Homo sapiens: one gene and its partners. The protein of the gene in region 5 interacts with the protein of the main gene of each other region in a biochemical or structural test. Each region holds a gene or a part of one and is shown on either strand. Other genes may lie near its edges. The genes, in order: FNBP1, VIPR1, ACTR2, PTPN2, WASL, FNBP1L and SNX9.

Region 1 (3,500 bases), on a different chromosome or scaffold from region 5:
ACTCCCTGAACCATGGTGGGTAGGGCAGAACTGCTTCAGAAGAGAAACAAAATCAACTTAGTTTTGCCATCCTTACTTCTCCATGAGAACAAATTTTGCACATGTCTTTTCTGTTTAGTGGATATTAAAAGAAAACAAACCGTGGGAGGCCTGGAGATTTTGCAGTTGATATTTAGATATCAGTTTTGTTGCCCTCACTTTGTACATTAGACAGAATCCTGAAAATTTGTGTAAATTGCCATTTTGGTAGGCAAAACTGTACTTTAAGCACATAAAAGAGTTTTATAAGTGTCTATACTTACTATGTGAACACATTACAACTCATGCTTTACATTGGTGAGACATGGAAAGTGCTTCTTTGAAGGACTATTCAAGTATCACCCACTAAGCAGCTAAAGCTAATATTATGTTTCCTGCAAGTATTACTCATACTTGTTTCATCAACACCACCCACATTTAAAAATAAGGCTTTATTTTGACACTTAAAAATTGAAAGCTACTAAGAATACATGAATGCCCTGGGAAATTAATCTAATTAGATTTTAGAATGTGGGTGTGAAGTCTTCTGGAATTAGTGTTTATAAAGGAATATTTGTTTCCTGTTTTACTTGTACACTCATACTAGCTTGAGCCTAGTAATGTGTTTAGTTAAAAAAACTTTTTTTTTTAATGATGAGGCCAAATATGTGTATTATATTAGAGAGTAATTTGGGGGTATGTAAGTTTTTGTTTGTTTGTTTTTTGAGATGGAGTTTCGCTCTTGTCGCCCAGGCTGGAGTGCAATGGCACGATCTCAGCTCACTGCAACCTCCACCTCCCGGGTTCAAGCGATTCTCCTGCCTCAGCCTCCCGAGTAGCTGGGATTACAGGCGTGTGCCACCACGCCTGGCTAATTTTGTGTTTTTAGTAGAAATGGGATTTCACCATGTTGGCCAGGCTGGTCTCAAACTCCTGACCTCAGGTGATCCACCCGCCTTGGCCTCCCAAAGTGCTGGGATTACAGGCATGAGCCACCGTGCCTGACCTCTCTATTATCTTAAAGTCTCGAATGATTGTTATCATTACTGCCATTTATTGAGTGCCTACTATGCCCCAGGTGCTGGACAAAGTGTTTACATCCATCATCTTGTTTATTTGTTACAAGAATCCAGCAAGGTAACTACCATTTGTGCCAATATCCTGGAAGAAGAGGCTTAGATGGAGTCATTAGTACAGTTTTACTGGGGAGTAACACCTGTGAAGGGGAAAGAGTGGAAGCCATCAGATCACGATGCAGACCTGACAGAGTCCCCACCAGGCCAATGGGGAGCTCCAGAGCAGACACAAGAATCCTCTGGCAGAAATGGCTCGGCCTCTGTATCTCTGCCTTCCTTTATCATTGGCCAGAGGTCGTCCCAAGAAGAGGATGGCCTTGGCTGCCAGCTTGCTTAGTCATTGGCTGGGGGTGCTACAAGAAGAGATGCCCTCGACTCAAAAGATGAGGTGGACCCTAAAGGAGGCTGCATGCTAGCCACAGTCCTTGCAGCTGGGCAGCGAGTCATTTTTTGCCACTTCTCCATGTTGCCCAGGCTGGGGTGCAGTGGCACGATCTCGACTCACTGCAACCTCTGCCTCTTAGGTTCAAGTGATTCTCCTGCCTCAGCCTCCCAAGTAGCTGGGATTACAGGCACATGTCACCACACTCTGCTAATTTTTGTATTTTTTTTGTAGAGACGGGGTCTTTCTATGCTGCCCAGGCTGGCCTTGAACTCCTGGGCTCAAGTGATCCTTCCACCTTGGCCTCCCAAAGAGCTGGGATTACAGGCATTAGCCACTTGGCCAAAAACTGGATCTTCTGTGTTAGTAGTGCACAGTTCCCTTTATCCCCACCACTCACTCATATTTCCCCATCACTGCAGTAGATTTTGCTTTATAAAACAGTTGATGTTATTCATATTGAGAATCACTGAGAATCAATGACTCACACCACTAAATGCTGCAGAGCCAGCAGAAACAGTCATGAATGAAGCTCGTACTCAAGCAGATGCTTCATAGATGTCTAGTAATCTCCTAATCCTTTCAAAGCCAGTTATTGTTTCTCTTTTCTAATTTAAATAAATTTGTGTGGATATTAATTAGTAGGAGTAGTATCAAGTTTCTGAATTTGCCCAACAGAAGTATGTCTTGGCGAAAACTATTTTTAAGGAAATTGAGAAAGAACAAGGAGGAATACAGAGTCTCACTCTGTTGACCAGGCTGGAGTGCAGTGGCACAAACATGGCTCGCTGCAGCCTCAATCTCCTGGGCCCAAATGAGCCTTTCGCCTCAGCCTCCTGATTAGCTGGGACCACAGGTGTACACTACCACGCCTGACCAACTTGTTTTTTTTTTTTTTTTTGAGATGGAGTCTTGCTCTGTCGCCCAGGCTGGAGTGCAGTGGTGTGATCTCAGCTCACTGCAATCTCCGCCTCCCGAGTTCAAGCGATCCTCCTGCTTCAACCTCCCGAGTAGCTGGGAGTACAGGCGTTTGCCCGGCTAATTTTTTGTATTTTTAGTAGAGACGGGGTTTCACAGTGTTAGCCAGGATGGTCTCGATCTCCTGACCTCGTGATCTACCTGCCTTGGCCTCCCAAAGTGCTGGGATTACAGGTGTGAGCCACCGCAGCTGGCCTGTCTAACTTTTTTTTTTTTTTTTGAGACAGAGTCTTGTTCTGTCACCCAGGCTGGAGTGCGGTGGCGCAATCTCTGCTCACTGCAAGCTCTGCCTCCCAGGTTCATGCCATTCTCCTGCCTCAGCCTCCCGAGTAGCTGGGACTACAGGCACCCGCCACCATGACTGGCTAATTTTTTTTTTTTTTTTTTTTGTATTTTTAGTAGAGGCGGGGTTACCATGTTAGTCACTGTGTTAGCCAGGCTGGTCTCACTCTCCTGACCTCGTGATCCGCCCGCCTCGGCCTCCCAAAATTCTGTGATTACAGGCGTGAGCCACCGTGCCCAGCCCGGCCTGGCTAACTTTTTTAAAAAAGTTTTTTTTGTAGAGGTGGGGGGGTCTTCCTGTGTTGCCCAGGCTGGACTTGAACTTTTGACCTCAAGTGATCACCGGCCTCGGCCTCCCAAAGTGCTGGGATTACAGGCGTGAGCCACCATGCCTGGCCGACATTCAGGGTTTTAAAGTTTTGAGTCTTCAGGAACAAGAAACGAAACACTTTCTCTATTATCTATAGCAGAAGAAAACTTGGGACCTGTAAAGGAATCTCCTCCCCTTGTACTTCTATTTGCACAGCCAAAATTGAGAACGGGTTCCTGAAATCCATTTAAAGACCAGACAGGCTCTGGGGACAAACGGTGTGGGTGCTCCCAGTTGAGTGAGGCAGTGCTGGAGGGCTCAGCCTGGGTTGCCTTGCTTACCTAATCTAATATTTATTAGTATCGGGCAAGTCCTTGCATCTCTGTTCCTCGCTTTCCCAATCTATAAAGTATGGTATGATGCTTGCCTTTCTCTTGACAAGAAGGCATAAAGG
Region 2 (3,500 bases), on a different chromosome or scaffold from region 5:
ATCCCTTACCCCAAGCTCTGGGTTGGGCTTTCCTGCTGAGGGCACAGCCCCACCTGTGGGCACACACAGCCAGCCTGGGCCCTGTATTTCTGTAGGCCTGGTGACATGTGTGATGGGACCTATGGGGCCTCATTAGGGCAGGCACACAGGAAATACTCCCGTTGCCTAGCCCAGGACAACAGGCCATTCCAGGTACCAAGTATATTCATGGCTGTCACCCCGTCCCCTGCTTCCCTGACCATGTCCCTCATATTGGCCTCTCATCCTGCTCCCCTGCCCTGCTGGCTGCCCTACACCCCAGCACCAGTTCACAGCCCAGCCTTGGTTATGCTGAGATTCCTTGAGGCCAAGTGTGGCCTCCCAAGGGCAGGGCCTGGTTTCCTCTCTTCTGTCCCACTGCAGTGAAGCAGAGCTCAGGGCCAGAGACCCAGCCCCGGATTCACTCCCTGGCCTGTGCTGGCAGCCGGAGGTTTAGAGAGCCCAAAGTCTGGCAGGGACTCAGACACAATAGCCGGCCTACAAAACAGGGCGTGCCCAGTGCTGTCAGAGAGGGGTAAACAAAGTCCAGCAGCAGCAAAATTCCCAGAGAAATGACAGGCCTTCCAACCAAGAGGAGTGGGAATAGACTGTACCGCTTACCAGCAACATGACCTTGAGCTGGTTTTCTAATCAGTCTGTGCCTCCATTTCCTCATCTGTGAAATGGAAGCATTAAATAAGTTATTCATCCAAAGAGGTTAGAACAGTGCCTGGCACATGCAAATGTTATATGAATGTTTGCTGATATTCTTAACAGGGTCTTGAACCCCCAGCAGGGTTTGACTGACCTGAAGTGCCCCTACTCAGCTTTCAGAGAAGCTGGCCCAGAATGGAAGAGGGACTGACAGCCAACATGAGGCCACAAGAGCCCTCAAGACAGGTTGGGGGAAAAGTGGTCAGGGTCCATGACCAAGGAAGGCTGCAATCTCTGGCCAAGCCCTAGGGATCCAGGTGTCCTCCTCAGCCTTCAGCTATAGATGTGGCCTGACTGCTGCAGCCCCAGAAAGTGCCCCTTGCTGCTGCCAGCCCACTCCAATGCACACAGTCCCGAGGCTCTTCCCCAAGTAAACACATCCCTCCACCTCCTCTTCCCAGACCCCCTTCTTGGGAACTTGTGAACCTTCGGACCTGAGCTGGGCTGGGCTGGGCTTGGCCCAGCTGGCGTTGACTTTGGCTCAGGGGTTGGGTTTTCTGAGCAAATCTATGGGACTGGCAGGATTGCAAAGAGACAATTAAGCCTCCTGCATGGGATGGGTCCAGAGCAGTCCTAGTCCCTCACGGGCATGAAGCTTCTGAACAGACTAAATGATGGCATTTGCATGTGCCTATTCAAGCAGACCCCTAGAGACCACACTGTGCATCTTTCACTGGCCAGGCTCTGCAAGGCTGTGGCGGAGAATGCAGCCACAATGCAGGGTTTTCGCTGCACTTGTTCCCTAACTATTCCCCTCCATCACAATTCACAATCCGACCACGTTGGGGGAATCTGTGTTGTTCAAGAACTAGGTGCGGGCTGGGCACGGTGGCTCATGCCTGTAATCCCAGCACTTTGGGAGGCTGAGAGGCAGGTGAATCACCTGGGGTCAGGAGTTCGAGACCAGCCTGGCCAACATGGCGAAACCCCGTCTCTACTAAAAATACAAAAATTAGCCGGGTGTGGTGGTGGGCTCCTGTAATCCCAGCTACTCAGAAGGCTGAGGCAGGAGAATCACTTTAACCTGGGAGGTGGAGGTTGCAGTGAGCCGAGATCATGCCATTGTACTCCAGCCTGGGCGACAGAGCAAGACTATGATGGGGTGATGAGTATATTGGGATGCATCTAGTTCTTTTTTTTTTGAGACAGAGTCTCAAAACATTTTCTAATGCCTCCTTCACTATCATAATATGAAATTCAGGACACGTACCCATCCACTTTATAAAAAATAATGTTCTAGCTATACTGTAAAATAAATATTAAAAGGAAAGTAATTTACAATAAAGTACCATGTACATATTCAAGCATAACCACACTAGATGTAGTCTGAAGGTTGTACCTACAAATATAAATCCTGGGAATGTGAGGCCTACAAATGCAGACTGATGGACACAGGTAGTTGTATCGGTGACTCAAGTATCACAGGCAGCACTGCTATGGGTATCATGATTTTCCAAAACATTGAACAACTCTTAGTGAAGTTCAGAACAAAACAAAATACAATCTTCCCTCCCTTTTCTCAGTGGCTGCATTCCTGGAAAACTCCATGTATGTTAAACTTGTGCAATAAACAGCTTGTGTTGGCCGGGCGCGGTGGCTCATACCTGTAATCCCAGCACTTTGGGAGGCCAAGGTGGGAGGATCACTTGAGGTCAGGAGTTCGAGATCAGCCTGGCCAACATGGTGAAACCCTGTCTCTACTAAAAATACAAAAATTAGCCGGGCGTGGCGGCATGGGCCTATAGTCCCAGCTACTCGGGAGGCTGAGGCAGGAGAATTGCTTGAACCCAGGAGGCAGAGGTTGCCAAGGTTGCACCACTGCACTCTAGCCTGGGTGACAGAGTGAGACTCCATCTCAAAAAATAAGTAAGTAAATGGCGTGTGTTTATACATAAAATGGTGTAAGAGTCTAGGCTCTGGTCATTATGAAAGGTTTTCACCTATACATATGCCCAGTGGCTCATCTGGAAGCCATGCAGAATGTGAGACAATTCATCATTGTGCAGGAGTTGTCTGTCTGGCATCCCTGGTGACTGCCCATCAAATGCCAGTGAGGCCCCCCTATTGCTGCAACAGTCAAAACCACCACTGGCATTGGAAACATCCCCAGGGGGCGCTCCATCCCTCACTAAGGACCAAGGAACTGTAGTCAGGCCTCCTTCCTGCCTCCCTGTCAGGACAGCCCCGTGCAACCTCCGCAGGGCTGTGCCTCCCCTCTCAGACTGGAGGCTCCTTGAGGTGGGAGCCTGGCAGAGGGAGGAAGAGAGTGGGTGCCTATGGCCTCAGGCCCCAGGGCTGGAGGCACCTGCACTGTGCTCACCCATGTGTCTTCTGCCTTACCCCCATAGGCTGCAGCAAGATGTGGGACAACCTCACCTGCTGGCCAGCCACCCCTCGGGGCCAGGTAGTTGTCTTGGCCTGTCCCCTCATCTTCAAGCTCTTCTCCTCCATTCAAGGTAAGACCCCTGGGTTGAAGAGGTGATGTGAGTGGGGCCGGCTGGAGTGGGGACTCACCTCTCAAGGAAGTGGAAAGGCAAAGGAAAGTGGTCAAAGAGGCTGGAGCAATCCGAGGGACTCCCTGGCAGAGGAGGCAATGGTGCTGGGTCTTTAAAGAACTCACAGGATTTGATTAGCTCTTCACATAAAGATAAGCATGTGGGAAAGGCTCACTAAATATTTGCTCAACAATTGATAACTGATTGACTGACAGGTACTTGATTAAATTATGACTCCCATAGTCCTGTTGTCTTGGGCTGGTCTTGATTCAG
Region 3 (3,500 bases), on a different chromosome or scaffold from region 5:
ACCCACCTCAAAAGTTAGAAATGCACTCCCAAATGTTTACCTTCTCCTTTTTAATCTACTATATATTTGACAGGCATGATTTTATGCTACCTTTTTGAATCTCTGCGTATTTTTTTTAACTCAAGCCAATTCTGGGGACAAATTCCATGCATAAAAAATTAAAATAGCTATGCCAGGCACGGTGACTCATGCCTGTAATCCCAGCACTTCAGGAGGCTGAGGCGGGCGGACTACCTGAGGTCAGGAGTTTGAGACCAGCCTGACCAATATGGAGAAACCCCATCTCTACTAAAAATACAAAATTAGCCAGGTGTGGTGGCACATGCCTGTAATCCCAAATACTTGGGAGGCTGAGGCAGGAAAATCACTTGAACCCAGGAGGTGGAGGTTGTGGTAAGCCAAGATTGCACTATTGCACTCCGGCCTGGGCAACAAAAGCGAAAATCTGTCTCAAAAAAAATTTAAATAGCTTAAAAGAGAGAATATCCTATTTTTTAAAAAATAAGTCTTTAAGCCTTTTTTTTTTACCTTAAATACATATTTAGCAAATAAAAATGTATATAAAATCTTATTTCACAAATTTTAAAAACTGAAAATATTTCAAAGTGTGGTATATAAATAATGTAGTTTTCTGGGGCTTATAACTTATTGAGAAACCAAATTCTCTGACATAAAACATACATAATAAATGTTTGATGAAGTGTTTTTTCTAACAGTTAAGCTTAACCTACCTTGAGCGTACAAAGTCAGAACTGCCTGGATGGCTACATATACACCGGAAAACTGGTAAGTTTCAAACATTACCTGTAAATGCAGACAGAAAGAAAAAAACTGGTATTTAGAAAATTACATAATAAATAAATGTTTTCCTCATGGTCACAGAGTGAATTAATTGCCCAAAATAGAATCAAATGGACCTGAAATAGTCTTCCATTTTCATCAGCTCCTCTTATTTCTTATTGAAGTCCTGCTGCCACAGAGCTCCAAATCTGAAGACAGATTTCTAAGTCCCCAAGCATTTCATAAGCGTGACAAAGCAAAGATTTCTTAGTGTATTAGTTAATGACTAATTAGTGTGAAAGAAAGCTCTCTGTATTGAACAAGACTTTCTTAATTGATATCCCTTAAGGGAAATTCTTTTTTTTTTTTTTTTTTTTTGAGATGAAGTCTCACTCTGTTGCCCAAGCTGGAGTGCAGTGGCGCAATCTTGGCTCACTGCAACCTCCACCTCCAGGGTTCAACTGATTCTCCTGCCTCAGCCTCCTGAGTAGCTGGGACTACAGGCATGCACCACCATGCCTGGCTAATTTTTGTATTTTTAGTACAGACAGGGTTTCACTATGTTGGCCAGGCTAGTCTCGAACTCCTGACCTCATGATCCACCCACCTCGGCCTCCCAAAGTGCTGGGATTACAGGTGTCAGCCACCACATCCAGCCAGGGAAATATCTTTTTTTTTTCTTTTTTTGAGACGGAGTCTTGCTCTGTCGCCCAGGCTGGAGTGCAGTGGTGCCATCTCAGCTCACTGCAACCTCCACCTCCCTGGTTCACGCCATTCTCCTGCCTCAGCCTCCCGAGTAGCTGGGACTACAGGCGTACACCACCACACCCGGCTAATTTTTAGTATTTTTAGTAGAGACAGGGTTTCACCGTGTTAGCCAGGATGGTCTCCATCTCCTGACCTCATGATCCGCCTGCCTCGGCCTCCCAAAGTGCTGGGATTACAGGCGTGAGCCACCGCACCCGGCCGGGAAATATCTTTTAATTCGAAGACAAAATATAGAAATTGCTTTACAGAGCCTCGTACCCCCTCCCTCAATCTGGGCCAAGAGTGTAGCTCTGTCTACCCTGAGCAGCTTAAAAATTAAAAGAAAGAAAGAAAGAAAAAATAAAAAACCCAGTAAAATGCCACGGCAAAGACAAAAATCAATGGTTAATTCCTGATTGCTGGAAGATACAGAAATGGCTTAGCTGCTGAGCCCAGTCCCTACTTGAATCAAGACTGTAATTACAACCTCCAAATGAACTACCCTGGAAGGAGGAGTTCTTTCCTTTTTGCCCTCACTGGTCACACACATGTTCATTCTCTGTAGCCCAGGTCAGCTGGGAACATCCTGCATGATTTTTTTTTTGGTGATCTTGACTGAGCACCCCTTGACTGGTAGGGTTGCCTATCACTCTGAATATCTAAATATTTAGAAATTTTACAACTGACCACAATGAAAATTACACAGAATTTAAATTCTACAACTCTGAAACACATACTCATCAATTAAGCAATTAGATAGTCTGAATAGTATTTTATTCCATCATCCTTTATTCCACCTCCACAGGGATGAAAATGGAAGAATGATCATATATATGCACATACCAATGTGAAAGCATGTTAATGAGATTAAGGTAGGACACTATCAGTCATAGACATATTTGTAGTCATAAACAAATAAGAATATTAAAATATAAGCCATAAGAAATCATATGGATTCTTTAAAACCATGATCTTAGATTTTCAAAACACTTAATACAAAAACTGAGTTTTAATACAGGCTTTAAAAATACTAACAACATTTTCTTCTAAACCCTTTCAAAAATTTCCATCAACATTTAAACATATTCGTAAACAAAATATGTACATTAAACAGTAACTGGAAAGCTACAGAAGTTATTAAATTTCTACTTCATATATACAAAAATAAAAGAACCTTGAAAAATTACTTATTTAAACTATGAGGATCATAGCTCTCTTGCTCTCTCTTTCCTCTGTAACTGCTTATTTCATTATTTCATTAACTTTTTTTTTCTTTTTCTTTTTTCTTTTTGAGACAGAGTCTCGCTCTGTCGCTCAGGTTGGAGTGCAGTGGGGTGATCTCAGCTCACTGCAACCTCCACCTCCTGGGTTCAAGCAATTCTCCTGCCTCAGCCTCCTGCGTAGCTGGGATTACAGGCGTGCACCACTATGCCCAGCTAATTTTGTGTTTTTAGTAGAGACGGAGTTTTGCCATGTTGGCCAGGCTGGTCTCAAATTCCTAGTCTCAAGTGATCCACCCGCCTTGGCCTCCCAAAGTGCTGGGAGCCACCTAGCCCGGCCTCAATAACGTTTTCAATCTCCTTCTGCTGGCTCCTCCTATCTCTCTGGTCCTTGGCCTTTTCACCACTGTCTACCCTCTTCTTTGTTGAACCGTATCATTTATAGCCCTACCTTCAAAACAGACCTATAATCTGGTAATTTCTCACTATCTCTACTACTACTACTTCAATCCTAACCATCATTATCTTTTGCTTAAATGACTGAAAAAGTCTCCAACTCTTCTATCTTTGCCTCCTTGTGGGATACTCACAACACAAGAGAAATCTAAATCTGAGCATCTCCTTTTCCTGTAACAGCCCCATATTTCACCCACAGTAAAAGCCCAATTCCCTTTTTTTCTTTTTGAGACTGAGTCTCACCCTGTCGCCCAGGCTGGAATGCAGTGGTGTAATCTCGGCTCACTGCAGCATCTG
Region 4 (3,500 bases), on a different chromosome or scaffold from region 5:
AATGACCAGTCCAGTTGCAATATATATCCTTATTTTTGCTGTGATCTTGAAATACTGCTGCCCATTAAAAGAAACCAAAACTCCTTAGAGAAATGGCTGGTTCCAGGTCTGGGCAGCAAGAGTTTGAGATGAGCCTGAGATGCAGTCATTACAGACAGCAAAAAAAATTTTTTTTTTTTGAGACAGGGTCTCGCTCTGTCCCCAGGCTGGAGTGCAGTGGCACGACCATAGCTAACTGTAGCCTTGACTTCCTGGCCTCAAGTGATCCTCCTGCCTCAGTACCCCAGGTAGCTGGGACTACAGGCATGCGCCACCACACCCAGCTAATTTTTGTATTTTTTGTAGAGACAGAGTTTCACCATGTTGCCCAGGCTGGTCTCAAACTCCTGGGCTCAAGCGATCCACCCAACTCAGCTCCCCAAAGTGCTGAGATTACAGGTGTGAGCCACTGCACCCAGCCAAGGAAACTATTAAAGGTTTGTTAAAAAGGACTCAGAGCTGGGTGAGGTGGCTCACGCCTGTAATCCCAGCACTTTGGGAGGCCGAGGTGGGCGTATCACTTGAGGTCAGGAACTTGAGACCAGCCTGGCCAACATGGTAAAACCATCTCTACAAAAACTAGCTGGGCATGGTGGTGGGTGCTTGTAATCCCAGTTGCTCGGGAGGCTGAGACGGGAGAATCTCTTGAACCCGGGAAGTGGAGGCTGCAGTGAGCTGAAATCATGCCACTGCACTCCAGCCTGGGCAACAGGCGAGACTCTGTCTCCAAAAAAAAAAAAAAAAAAAGAGGACTCAGGACCCAACCTAAAGACATTGCTGCTAGCCAATGACAGGGTAATTTGATCAAAAATAAGGAAAATAACTGCAAAGGAGTAAAATTAATCCAGTATGTCCAAACCCATAATAATTCAACCTCTCCTGCCACTCTCCACCAGAAAAACTCCTAATTGGTCATCTGTTGAGAACAGATGACCTCAATAGGGAATCAACTTTTTTTTGGAAAACTGCTTTTAAGAGAAGTAATGACAGAATTGGATTATCATCATTTGTAACCCATAATGAATTAAGAAGCTGAACACTGACCAATAATGGCTATTAATGAAATAAAAAGAACAATAATCAGACATTATGGGTCTCTTGATGAATAACACATTACCCACCACCTCTGAAGTAATCTTCCCCAAAATAATTAAACCTGACTCTTGTTAACCATCTAGGTTCAACCACCATAAACATGATTTCTAAATTCTGGTGGCAGTGTTATCTTATTAATACAGTAATTATACTCCAAAATGAGAGAAATAAAATTTGCAAATCATGTAGTCTACAATGGTGCTCAAACTGACAATGTCATAATCCTTGATTTTTTTTTTTTTCTTTTTTGAGATGGAGTCTCACTCTACCGCCCAGGCTGCAGTGCAGTGGGTTTTGAGATGGAGTCTCATTCTATCATCCAGGTTGAGGTGCAGTGGCACAATCTCGGCTCACTGCAACCTCCACCTCCTAGGTTCAAGCGGTTCTCCTGCCTCAGCCTCCCAAGTAGCTAGCATTACACCTGGCTAATTTTGTATTTTTAGTAGAGACGGGGTTTCACCATGTTGGCCAGGCTGGTCTCAAACTCCTGACCTCAAGTGATCTGCCTGCCTCGGCCTCCCAAAGTGCTGGGATTACAGGTTTGAGGCACCGTGCCTGGCCTAATCCTTAATTTTTAAATGATATTGAAGATCAGGAAAAACCCCTGTAAATGACTATGCTGATACTGCTGGAAATTCTGGCATGTCATTGCCACATCTAATTAGAAGTGGATTAGGAAATTTTCATCATCATTAAAAACCAGCAATTATGAAATGTAGAATAAAGTAAGAAATCTGAAGTAGAACAGTACAAGATCTTAAAGCTGGAAGAGGACTTATTGACAATAGGTCAATAAGGATTCCTAGGGATTCCAAAGATCTATATGTCACTGCTAGTCCATATTTATTCCATTGTATTTCTATCTTGGAGATGAAAGGTCTGCAATTGTTATAAAAATACTTAAGAAAGGAAAAGGATACATGAGTTTTTCCGGACAGAAACACTTTGACCGCTAGCCTTTAGCAATTAAAGGCCAAAACTAAGGAATGAATATTGGCCCCAAAATGAAAATCTTTATATGCTAATGATCACATACAGTATACTAAGTTGTAAATATTAAATATTACTCACCGATTCTTTCTCCACAATGCGGTTCAGCATGACAACTGCTTTGGTCTTCTGCTGCCAAACCATAAGCCAGAAATGGCAGCATGTGTTAGGAAGTGGACCCTGTGAAGAGAGAGGAGAGAGAGCAGATGAGGGAAGCAGACAGAAAGAGCAAGGCTCCAGGAAGGCCTTGTTAAGTCTGCTCCTGGGATGTTACAAGACAGACAGCGGACGGGCTTATAAGAAGTAAACCAAGACTTCCAATCTACCTGATTTCAAAAACAGGTCTGTGTTAGTTAGGATTTTTGGTTGTAAATGATCAAAACTGACTTTTATTTTCTCAGGCAAAAAAGGAATTGTGTAAGATATCAAGTGGCTTTCAGAGTTGAGGACTAGAGAGACAAACTTGGGTAGGAACCAAGGGTTAAGACACAAGCAAGGTCCTGCCCCAAAGAAAGTCAACCTGGGATGCTGCTCTTGATACCGTCACTACTATCTCCTTGCTTTTGCTGGCACTGCCATATGAAGGTGGCTATAGTATTCATGTACAATCTATAGGCAAATCAGAGACAAAATCACGAGTAGGAGTATCTGACTGATCATGTTCTAGCTGCAAAGAAGGTAGACCAAGGAAATTTCTGTCCTCTTCATCTTCTACAGCCAAGAGGATGTGCCTCCCACACATCATAGAAAATCCATGAGAAAAAAGTCTGTACCATCACTGGCCAGCCAACCAACTCAAGTCAACTACAAAAAGATTTCTAGAAAAAGTAGGAATCATTAAAGTACCTGAACCACAATGAAACTGTTAATCTACAAATGCACAGTATGTACGGCCTCAATGGAAGAGTATTGGGCAGAGTTAAAAAGGGGCAACAGTCCATGTTACAACAATGCCATGGGGATAAAAGCAAAATATTTCATGTATTTCCAATTGCTTTCACATTTTAATGATAGCATAGGGCAAAAGGAAGATCTAATAAGAGATGAAAAGCCTATGTACAAATTTTAACGAGTTTTAAATGAGAAGGTTAAAATGAGATGTAGTTTTGCTACACCTAAAATAACTATGAACATGCATTCAACTCACATGGAATGTAGCAGAGTGGTATGAGTTAGGGGCAGAGTCAGGAGTGGGGGCTAGGGCTGCCCAGAGCTTCAGACCCACATACAACAAGGGGGTTAAAGTGGTTCTAGACTAAAAGCATTTTTTATTTTTTGAGATGGTGTCTCTGTCACCCGGGCTAGAGTGCAGTGTCACGATCTCAGCTCACTGCAACCTCCACTTCCCAGGTTCAAGAGATTCTCCTGCCTAAGCC
Region 5 (3,500 bases):
GATTTTTTTAATATTGGAAAATAAGCAGTAACATGTAACACCTATCATATCACTAATACAATTTCATCCAGAATTAGGATTCTAGATGGAATTGGTTAACAAAAGAGAAATTCTTAAAAATAATTCCATCTTAACCAAAAAAGCAGTTTCTAATAACCCAAAAATACATTATAATTACAAATAATAATTCTAAGTTAGCTAAGAGTTGGTAATTCTACTACTAATGCTTTTTTATTCTGTTCACTCTGCTGTTTTAAAAGTGAAATGCCTATTAAATTACAATGCTTAGAAAAAGGTGAATTAAAAATGGGAATTTTCAATGAAATAATTCAGGATTATCTACCTTCTGCTTAGATATATGCTATATTAGTCTCGGCTGTGCAAAACACATATATGCTAGAGTTAACATTAGGCCTGTTCTTTCCCTGCTAGAGTCCCTGGAATCTAGAATAGTTAAACTGATTAAGCATTAAAGCTGGAAAGACTGTGGAGTTATCTTGTCTGACCCTTCATTTTCAAATTAGAAAAGTGAAGTTCAGGAAGGGAGAAATGGCCAGGCACAGTGGCTCACACCTGTAATCCCAGCACTTTGGGAGGTTGAAGCGGACAGATCACCTGAGGTCAGGAGTTCGAGACCAGCCTGGCCAGCATGGTGAAACCCTGTCTGTACTAAAAATACAAAAATTAGCCAGGGGTAGTGGCACACGCCTGTAGTTCCAGCTACTTGGGAGGCTGAGGGAGGAGAATAACTTGAACCTGGGAGGCCGAGGTTGCAGTGAGCCGAGATCGTGCCACTGCACTCCCGCCTTGGCGACAAAGCAAGACTCTGTCTCAAAAAAAAAAAAAAAAAAAATTCCTGTTCATATTCACAATGTATGGTAGCAGAGCATGGACTAAAATTCAGGAACTCCTAACTTTTTCATCAGGACCCCTTTCTTCCTCTTCAATTAGCAGCCAGGGAGGCTCAGGCTGCCCAGACACTCCCCAAAGAGATACATTCAAGCTGCTCCTTAACTTTTAATTTACACACCTATAATTAACTGACTTTAAAATTGTTAATTTACCTAAGTCAAAACAAATACAATATAGAGCTGAAAATTTTACTCTAAATCCTCCCTGCCAGTAACAGGAAATCTAAACTGAGCACTGAATAGTATTCATAACAACTTTCTTTCATATGCTCCTCCAAACTCCCAGAATACTTTGTGTCATGGACTCTAAGTATTTTCCATAATGATTGAATTACTCTTTGAAATCCTTGACTAAGCCCATTTTACAAATCTAGACATGAAGGCTGAGACTAGTTAAGAAATGTCCCTGTATTATATATATAGAGCTAAGAATAACCAGAAGTAAAATTCATAACCCAACCCTGTTGGACTTTTCTGAATCTCTTCTTGTGCTTACAGCTACGCTGCGTCACATACATTTTTGTGCTCATCTTTTTCCTCTATACTAGACAAAGGTATCTTCTCATCTTTGTATATTCCAAATCCAGTGAATTTTAACTTTTATCTTTCCTTACTACTCAAGGTGAAATACATTCCCGGTCTAAACTTTCCACCAACAGTGCCTTACTCAGGCCATCATCAATACAATGATCCCTCTAAGCATATCCTTCCCTGTATGCCTATGTAAGAATCCCTACCCAACAGGTCTGATTTAGAACACAAACAAACTACTGTTAGACAACTGTTACCACCTATATTAGTTCAGCAGCACAACTAAACCATTTCGGTCGCTTAATAAATGAAGACTAAAGTCCAGATACCATGTGCATTAGAAACTGAAGGGCTTAACAACCTAATCAAGCAATAAGAAACGCAGAATGAGCTCCTAAAAAATAAACGAGTAATTATAATTATTCAATCAATCAATAAGTATTCACTGATCTGGGAGCCAGAAGTTACAAAAATTATAGAAGACTACCTAGGCATAAAGTCTATCTCCAAGAATTATATATAGTGAGGAAACAAAAAACTAAAGAAAATAAGCAAGTTAAAACAAGTGCTGAGGAGTTAAAGGAAATAAAGATTAAGGTTGATTAATAAAAATGGCTTAAGTATCACTAAATCTTGAAAAAACAAACCAGGTGAGTATGGCAGGGAAAGATAATGCTCAATAACATTATCAGCCCCAATCCATATAAACCAGATATGGCTGTAGAGACGTAGTTTAATGTTTTATTTTTTCCTATTCCTTAGTTTCTCACTTATTCAGGACTATATATGTTGAACTTCACTTAGCAAAACTGCACATACTCTTTATATAAAATTAACTGAATCACACTACATGAAAGGCAACAGATCTAACTACAAAATAAGACCTAGTAATCTTGTTTATAACCTTCTCATTCTCCCTTCATAATACTACCAGCTAATGAATGGCATCAGAACTATTTATGTAAAAGTACATATCATGTATTTATGTATTACAATGAAATCTCAATTTCCACAAAATGAATTTTTAGAAACTGTGGTAAAACAAAAGATTTACTGATGATCTGCCTCCTCCATGAAGCCAATCACCAATCCAGAGTCTCATTAACATTTAGGCATATTTGCAGCGAATGAGAATAAAAATATGTTTCTGTGTACTTTTTCTGCTGGTGGTTATAATGCCTGCCTTTATTGAAACTCCCTTCCCTCACCTTCTATATATAACTGGGACTAATTTCTGCTGGAGACTTTAATTGTTCTTGAATTCCCAAAGTACTCTCTTAATTCAGGCCCTCATCATATTTCACCTGCAATACTATAAATCAACTATCTGATTTCCCTTGTCTTTCCCTCACAATCCTCAATCCACCTTCTATACTGCCTCCACCTTTCCCCTGAAAATTTTCTAAGTCAAATATGATCTTGTGAGTCCCCATTAAATAGTGCAATACTTCCCCAACTGTATCTCCTTCTTAGTTGTGAAATGTACACTGGTATCTTCAGCGGTGAGAGAAATGCTGTACTAAAAGAATTTGGTTTAACTTAATTTAGCTTCAATTTGCAAAATATAGACCAAAAATTGAAGAAAAATCTATTAAGATTTCCAATGTGCTCAAGGATTATCCTATCAGACAACGTGGACTTTAGCAGTGGTTTTCAAACTGTGATATACTTTAGAATTTTCTGTCAAGCTTGCTAAAAATAGACATGTCCAAGCTTCACCTCAGATCCAGTGATTCTGAGTAATATCTAGGAATTGGGCCTAGGCATATGCATTTCTCATAATCTCCACAATGATTCCAATTCATACCTAAATCTGAGAGCCCAAGCAGAAGCCCTCCTTGCTCCCTAACAAACCTAACAAACTTATTAGTAGGTCTCCTAACTTTTCAAGCTGTTTCATACCTCTCATCAGCCTAGGGAGTACCTGTTTAAATATAAATAATCAGTTATCCATTTTAAAAAGCTTTTAATCATCCTCTCTCCCACCATTCTCTCCTTTAATCCCCTAAACCTTTATAAAAATAGTTTCCATATATTTATACACAGTCTTAATCCACA
Region 6 (3,500 bases), on a different chromosome or scaffold from region 5:
TGTAGTAATAATATATATTTAAAAATAAAACTAATTTCAAATTAGTAACATATTATTAAAGGAAATAACATCCTTCAAATATTCTTGCAGCGGCGCTAAAATAAATACACTTTCATCTTCTAAAACCCAGAGGTATTCCCCTCCTGCCACCAAAGTATTCAGAAGCAAGAGGTAATCCCTTCTACCAATAAACTAAGATTTTCTTCTGTGAATTTTTAAATGGTCTGAAAAGTGGTTTGATTATATACAAATGTGTAACTACACACACACACACACACACAGACACACCCATACACACACACAAGAGGTTCATGAATCAAGCAATCAGCCAGACCAACCTCTTTGCCTGCCTGGTTCCAGTCTACCCTTCATCACTACTTTCAGACATTGTGCACTCAAATTCAAGTCAAACGCAACACTAGACTCAGGTCAGTCCAACAAACATTTATTAAAGACCCTACTAATGTCAGGCTAATCCAGGCAGGATACAGCAATGAATCAGACAATGAATAAGCAATGAGTAAGACACAATATCTGCCCTCTAGGAACCTGTCAGGAACCCCCACCTGCATAACCCTTCTTATTCCAAAACCTAGGTCAAATGACAGTCTTCCTAAAGATTTTCCTGTGATACCTAGAATGAAAAGTCACTTTTCATAGCCCTAAAGTCCATCTATTACTTTCTAGTTGTTTTAGGGTTGCTTTGAGGCTCATGCTGATATCTAATTGATTCTTTTAGTATGCCCCACAAAGCCTAGCTTAGTGCTGAAGCCATAATAGGCATGAAATAAACATCTGTTGAATGAACAAGCATCAGTCCTGTTTACGTGTTTCAGGTGTATTAGATAGACATGGCCTGAACTGAAATATGGAACGGCTTTCACATTCTATAGAACAAAACCTTTACATAACCTTTCCTACCAGTTTTTAATATTCTATAGATATATTCCCCAAGACAGATTTTTTTTTGCTATTGAAGTGAAAATGTTTAAAGATTGAAGATTATTAAATAAGACAGCACTTGTTGATATACACAGAAGGTATTTGACATTTATAAGCCATTACTATTTCTCTTACTATTTCCTCTCTACAAACTAGCTGACAGAGGAAAAAGTTGGTAGAATAGGTTTTTTTAAAGTTTCCAGCCAAAATCATATTTTATAGGTTTATAGGGTGGGGGAAGGAGAGAGAGCAAATATTTTAAGAAAAAGGCAAAGAAAGCAAGCAAATGGAAGTAAATGGAGTATGAGTGGCTATGCAAAGGAGATACTGGTTAGAGGCAGCTCTCTAGCTTCCAACTTATTATAGTCATTATGGAATGGTGACATAAACAGATATCTTGATACCTCTCACTCATCCTCCTTAACTAATAGCAATAACGTCTGTAATACAATGTTGAACACAACAATTTCTACCAACAAAAGGGAATGTAAGATATTTAAGTATTTATACCATGACAATTTCCCTAAGATTTGAATACACAAGAAATAACTATAATAACCGTAATATAAGGTGGTAGTCCCATAAGACAATATCCAGAATGGGTAGTCTGGAGGCATGGGGTTGATAGGAATTGGTCAACAGAGGGCATTCTGGGCAGTGGTATCAATGTAGGGAAGTATTTTGGAGTTTACAGTAAAGTTATATCATCTCAAAGCAACTCTACCTTTTGTCAGGGCAGGGCCAATATCATAAGCCTTCATAAATCTCACCAAACATAACAGTGCTTCCCAAATAATAGACACAAAATTATTGTATTTTTAAAACAAAACTGAATTCCTACAGCAGTTTCACGGCCTTTCATTTACTTTTGGAGAAGCAATTCAGTTTACATTAATAATGAATTTTCTTTGTCAACCTCCTCTAGACAAGCACCCTCCAAAAAATGTGAAGTAAAATTAAAGTCAATATTATAGACAGTCCCAGCTTCTTGAGAGCTTAAGGAAGGACGATTGTGGAGCACAGAGTTCAAGACTGGCCTGAGAATATAGCAAGACCCCATCTCTAAAAATATACATATATATTACAGATATGGTCTAACCAGTAGACTATGAGACCCAATTCCTTTGTTACAGATAAATCTATTAATGTGGCCTAAGATTTCACCAATTATTTAGGCAGTCACATTACCAAGCTATCAATCAAGTAAATTCACCAGAAATTACCTGTAGGTCTTTTCTTCCCCATCCTTTTACCATTTTACTTGACAAAAATGTTTAACCCAAGTAGTAAAACTTAACTTTATAATTTTGGTTTCAGCTTTAGACTTTCTTGAGCTGTTATCCAGATCACCTAACCTATCACCATCTACAAAGGCCTTCAGAACCCTAAAGATACACTTGCTAATTAGTAATCAATACTCTGGGTAATGCAATCAACTATTAATGCAATTGGGCAAAACATGCATGATCACCTACAAGCATTGTCTTGGTCAGTGAAAACAAAGATGAATCCAGCCTTTCTACACTCAAGGACAATCTAGTCACTTACAATGTAAATTTAAGTGCTATATAAAGTGTTATGAAGCCAAGATAATAAAGTATTAAAAGGTTAACACTGAGGATAATACATAAATTATCCACCTAATCTATCACTCAACCCACATTTTTCAGTTTCTTCCAAAAAGATATAAGCTTTGTCAAATGCATTTAGTTAATAATATGATGAAGACCGGGCACGGTGGCTCACGCCTGTAAACCCAGCACTTTGAGAGGCCGAGGCGGGCGGATCACAATGTCAGGAGTTCAAGACCAGCCTGGCCAACGTGGTGAAAACCTGTTTCTACTAAAAATACAAAAATTAGTCGGGCATGGTGGTGTGCACCTGAAATCCCAGCTACTCGGGGGGCTGAGGTGGGAGAATGGCTTGAACCAGGGAGGCTGAGGTTGCAGTGACCCGAGATCGCACCACTGCACTCCAGGCTAGGCAACAGAAGAGACTCCATCTCAAAAATAATAATAATATAAATAATATGATGAAAATAACAATGGCTTTTAAATTACACATTCTTAAACTAAGGGCCAAAGATTATATCGACCAAGAAATTAAGGCATAAAAAAGATTTATATGCACTTATAAATTAAATCAGATATTTGAATCCATCTTCTAACTACCAGACTTGTCCAGCATTTTCCTTGGGTAGCAAATTTTTCAGTAAATCATATGAATGTGAGGTGCTCAGCCATATATTTTTTTCATATTTATACACACATTCACAACCCATACACAGATTTTTTCTGTCGAACTTTAACTAGGTCCTCAAAAACTAAAAACCTATTTCTTAATAAGTAAAACTTATTTACTAAACATAGGTCTTTTCCAATCTCTAATGTCCCTATCTGTTAAAAAAAAGCTAGTAATTTCAAAATCTGTGCTTTGTGAAATTATTAATTCATATTTGGCTATCTGATCCATCCATTCTTGCTATGTAATAAAGAAATGAACACAATAAGCAATGCCTAAGATGTTACCACGCATCCTGAAGAAGTGAAGACAGTATC
Region 7 (3,500 bases), on a different chromosome or scaffold from region 5:
TGATTTGCACATTAAACGTTCTTGTGAGACGTTTAGGCAACTTCCAGATAGATGTACAACATGCAATGGTTCTCTCTTCATAGCTGTATTTAATTACTGTTTCCAACTCCTGCATCCTGCTGCTCTACAGGATGGAAAATGCCATCACTGACTTACAGGAAGATAATCTGACTGGAGTCTTTCTATTTGTCATCCTGGGTTTAGCATTACACACACTCACCTGTGACTTGTTTGTCTGGAAGAGAAGGGATTGGAATGGCTGACCCAAACTTAACCAGGAGACGCTCATATAACCAGTCAAAGTGCTTATACCTGTGGTTTACAGATCGATTAGTGTTCTACAAAATAAGGGAAAGAGAAAAGGTTACCAATGCCAACTCTAGAAAATGAAGAAAAAAGCAAGCTGCAATCAGTGATCCAAACATGATTCTGCTTTTGATAACGTGGATACTTACAGTAGGTGTTAGCTGATATTCGATGTAGCTCTTTAGACCATACATTTTGGAGCCTTTCCTGGGATCTGCTACCACACAGTCAAAAGTAGAGGTAGGATAAACCCACATTGGGCCATAATCTCCAACCTATGCCAATGTTCCAGAAAGAAGTAATTTTGTTACATGGAAAAATAATAAATACAATTGATGTGAATCAGCAAGTAATTCTTTTCAGAATGAGAAGTCCTTTGGAGGGTCATTCTTGTTCCTCTTTGAAAGGTACATAAATGGTTCAATGGTTTCTGTTCCTGTTAGATATTATGTTTAAAGAACACACCTGTGGGAAACCCTTCTGCTCCCACGTGAGTAGCTCAGCCCATGGAGAGGAGACACCAGCTTCCCTCTCCCAAGGACAGTGCTGGTTACAAGACAATGTTTCTTTCTAGTCTAGCTGTCTCAAGCTACACGTGATGAAGGACTAGTTTTTAAAAATTTCGAATCTATCACAGACTAATAGTTTGGTGAAATATAACATTACACATTTTGATTTTTCAACAATACCAAATTGTCCTCAAGTTTTCAAAATATTCTCATGTACTGTACCTATCTCACGGTGGATCAGGAACAAGCAGTTTTCAGATGGGCAAGTGGTCTGTGGACCATACTTTGAGTAGCATTGTTCTGGCTCATAGAAACGATTAATCAGATTGGCCAGAGCCTGATAGTCATTGTTTTACTACTAGTGGCAAGGTGGGGGGAGGGGGAGGTACTACATCTTAAAAGCAAGAACCAGGCTAGCTGTTTTCTTCCGTGGACTGCTATGTGCCTAAGCACAGTGGGCTGGCTCACTTCCAACCCCCGGGTATCACGTCCACCTGGGCAAGGCTTGCCTGAAGAGGGTAGGCCTCCATTCTTTTCTCACTGGCCTTCTCTTCTATCTGTGACTAGGGCAAAAGTTCACAAATTCAGGCGAGGCTTACACTAGCTCACTGGGGTTTTAGTTGTGGTGGGAGGTGAGGAAGGGAAACCAGCTAAATTCTATGTGGGGGTGTAGAGACCTCGTGTAAGTTTTGAGCCTGAGGATCATTTCTTCTAGGCACTGCTAGGTGACAATAGGTCTGCTGTCCCAAACCTGGTTTTTTCATCTTATTTAAAACAGCATCCAAGGCCATGGGGGCAGCTGCAGAGGAACCTGGATGCTGGAGCTCATGTACAGGCTTCTGGAATCACTACCTGAGTCACCAATAGTCTCAAGTTGGTTCTGCCTCATTCATTTCATAAACTTTGATCACAATGACAGATTCTAGAGGTTCAGACTGCAGGACAGTAGCTCTTATCAAAACACATTTCAGAGCAATAGAAGTCCTTATTATACTGAGAATGTTATCTATCTTCTTGGCTTGAAAATGAAAAATAATTGAGTTATAATCCAAGAAGAGAATGAAAAAACAAACACATGGACTGTAAAAGGACCACTATTCAGGAAGCAGATTCACTCAGAGATTCATTCAGAGATTCAAGGAGAATGAAATAATTTATGGAACAGGTTTTATTCTTGCAGACTTGAAAAAGTACCATAAGAAAGTAAAAAGAAAATGAGAAAAATCACACAGATTGCGCTGAAGGAAGAGAGATTTGTTTCGGCTGAGACCTCAGAGAGGCAAGGCCAGACAGACATAAAAAGGAAAAAAAGGTATACCCAGTCCTAATTTTTTTTTTTAAGAGGAAGATGGGAAAAGCGGATTGGGATATTAAAGTTCAGAGGCTGTTAGGTCAGGAAGGTGACCTACTCCAAGGATAAGAGTAGTTTAAAAAGAGACTAAAATCTCTGAGAACAATTACTATAACCCCCTCAGGGAGAGCCCAGATCCAAGAAACTAGCTGAAAGCTGCAGAGGAGATGACTTTCGGGACCTCCCTCAGTGAGTGGGCCGAGAGCAGCAACTGTGCTTGGCTAAGGCCCAATTTCACGGGGCTCTGTTTCATGAGTGGGCAAGGTTACTGCACTTTTAGAGCAAAGAGTTAGTCTCTGCTTTCTCTGGGCCTCCTGAAGACGCGGTGGCTTTCCTCAGCTTCTTCCATGTATAGACGCCCACACAGGCAGACCTGCCTACTGGGTGCATGGGTGCAGTTCTACTTAAAACTTGCCGGTCAATGAAAGGCTGGAACCCTTAGCTCTGTACCACCACTGCAAACCTGGGACAAAGTCCCCTTTAAGAATGTGAGGCAGGCCGGGCGCAGTGGCTCATACCTGTAATCCCAGCACTTTGGGAGGCCAATGTGGGCGGATCACAAGGTCAGGAGTTCAAGACCAGCCTGGCCAATATGGTGAAACCCCGTCTCTACTATAAAATACAAAAAAAATTAGCTAGGCGTGGTGGTGCATGCCTGTAATCCCAGCTACTCGGGAGGCTGAGGCAGGAGAATTGCTTGAACCCGGGAGGCAGAGGTTGCAGTGAGCCAAGATCACACCACTGCACTCCAGCCTGGGTGACAGAGTGAGACTCTGTCTTAAAAACAAACAAACAAACAAAAAAACAAAACTGAGGCAGAGCTGTGCGCTCTTGATTTTGAGGAGTTTTAAATGTCATGAAAAGAATAATGGTACATGTTCAATTTTTATTAAGTCCAGAGAAAACAGGAAAAAAAAATCTTTAATATAACTACTCAGAAGTTAATTATCCCAAATTTGCTTTGAGGGAAAAAGCATAAAAAGGGCTCTTGGTTACAGCTCTTCAGCTTGGAGGCTTCCAGGATTTGGAGTTTTTCAAACATGCAGGCACAAGTAATTAGAGAATCTAATACTATTCCTGCAATTTTATCAAGTTTCCAAAGACTACAGAATAAGACCAGATGTTTCCTCATCCTCGATTGAGTCCAGGATGAGAACACTCAAGGCTTCAGGTTCCCAATCTAATTGTTACAGGGTTAAGTCAATAGGATCAGAAGATAGCTACAGTTCTCTTTTCCAGAATTTCATTTGGGAATCTACAACTAAATATCACCTAGACAGAAAATCTACCACCAATCAAAATGTGGAATGAAACCGAAGGGCTTGTGTCACATT

Evidence for each region.
Region 1: the proteins of WASL (region 5) and FNBP1 form a complex in vitro, tested with the Homo sapiens proteins (one study listed by BioGRID).
Region 2: the proteins of WASL (region 5) and VIPR1 form a complex in vitro, tested with the Homo sapiens proteins (one study listed by BioGRID).
Region 3: the proteins of WASL (region 5) and ACTR2 interact in a test that uses a peptide from one of them, tested with the Homo sapiens proteins (one study listed by BioGRID).
Region 4: of the proteins of WASL (region 5) and PTPN2, one has a biochemical effect on the other in vitro, tested with the Homo sapiens proteins (one study listed by IntAct).
Region 6: the proteins of WASL (region 5) and FNBP1L form a complex in vitro, tested with the Homo sapiens proteins (one study listed by BioGRID).
Region 7: the proteins of WASL (region 5) and SNX9 form a complex in vitro, tested with the Homo sapiens proteins (one study listed by BioGRID).

What each region holds. Positions count from the first base shown.
Region 1 is NC_000009.12:130,033,190-130,036,689, reverse strand, and holds part of FNBP1 (formin-binding protein 1), read left to right. Parts: intron 1-3,500. UniProt on the Homo sapiens protein: May act as a link between RND2 signaling and regulation of the actin cytoskeleton. Required to coordinate membrane tubulation with reorganization of the actin cytoskeleton during the late stage of clathrin-mediated endocytosis.
Region 2 is NC_000003.12:42,516,143-42,519,642, forward strand, and holds part of VIPR1 (vasoactive intestinal polypeptide receptor 1 isoform 1 precursor), read left to right. Parts: intron 1-3,080; coding exon 3,081-3,188; intron 3,189-3,500. UniProt on the Homo sapiens protein: G protein-coupled receptor activated by the neuropeptides vasoactive intestinal peptide (VIP) and pituitary adenylate cyclase-activating polypeptide (ADCYAP1/PACAP).
Region 3 is NC_000002.12:65,248,331-65,251,830, reverse strand, and holds part of ACTR2 (actin-related protein 2), read right to left. Parts: intron 805-3,500; coding exon 732-804; intron 1-731. UniProt on the Homo sapiens protein: ATP-binding component of the Arp2/3 complex, a multiprotein complex that mediates actin polymerization upon stimulation by nucleation-promoting factor (NPF).
Region 4 is NC_000018.10:12,828,738-12,832,237, forward strand, and holds part of PTPN2 (tyrosine-protein phosphatase non-receptor type 2), read right to left. Parts: intron 2,305-3,500; coding exon 2,206-2,304; intron 1-2,205. UniProt on the Homo sapiens protein: Non-receptor type tyrosine-specific phosphatase that dephosphorylates receptor protein tyrosine kinases including INSR, EGFR, CSF1R, PDGFR.
Region 5 is NC_000007.14:123,742,504-123,746,003, forward strand, and holds part of WASL (actin nucleation-promoting factor WASL), read right to left. Parts: intron 1-3,500. UniProt on the Homo sapiens protein: Regulates actin polymerization by stimulating the actin-nucleating activity of the Arp2/3 complex. Involved in various processes, such as mitosis and cytokinesis, via its role in the regulation of actin polymerization.
Region 6 is NC_000001.11:93,451,118-93,454,617, reverse strand, and holds part of FNBP1L (formin-binding protein 1-like), read right to left. Parts: intron 1-3,500. UniProt on the Homo sapiens protein: Required to coordinate membrane tubulation with reorganization of the actin cytoskeleton during endocytosis. May bind to lipids such as phosphatidylinositol 4,5-bisphosphate and phosphatidylserine and promote membrane invagination and the formation of tubules.
Region 7 is NC_000006.12:157,906,746-157,910,245, reverse strand, and holds part of SNX9 (sorting nexin-9), read right to left. Parts: intron 582-3,500; coding exon 456-581; intron 339-455; coding exon 221-338; intron 1-220. UniProt on the Homo sapiens protein: Involved in endocytosis and intracellular vesicle trafficking, both during interphase and at the end of mitosis. Required for efficient progress through mitosis and cytokinesis. Required for normal formation of the cleavage furrow at the end of mitosis.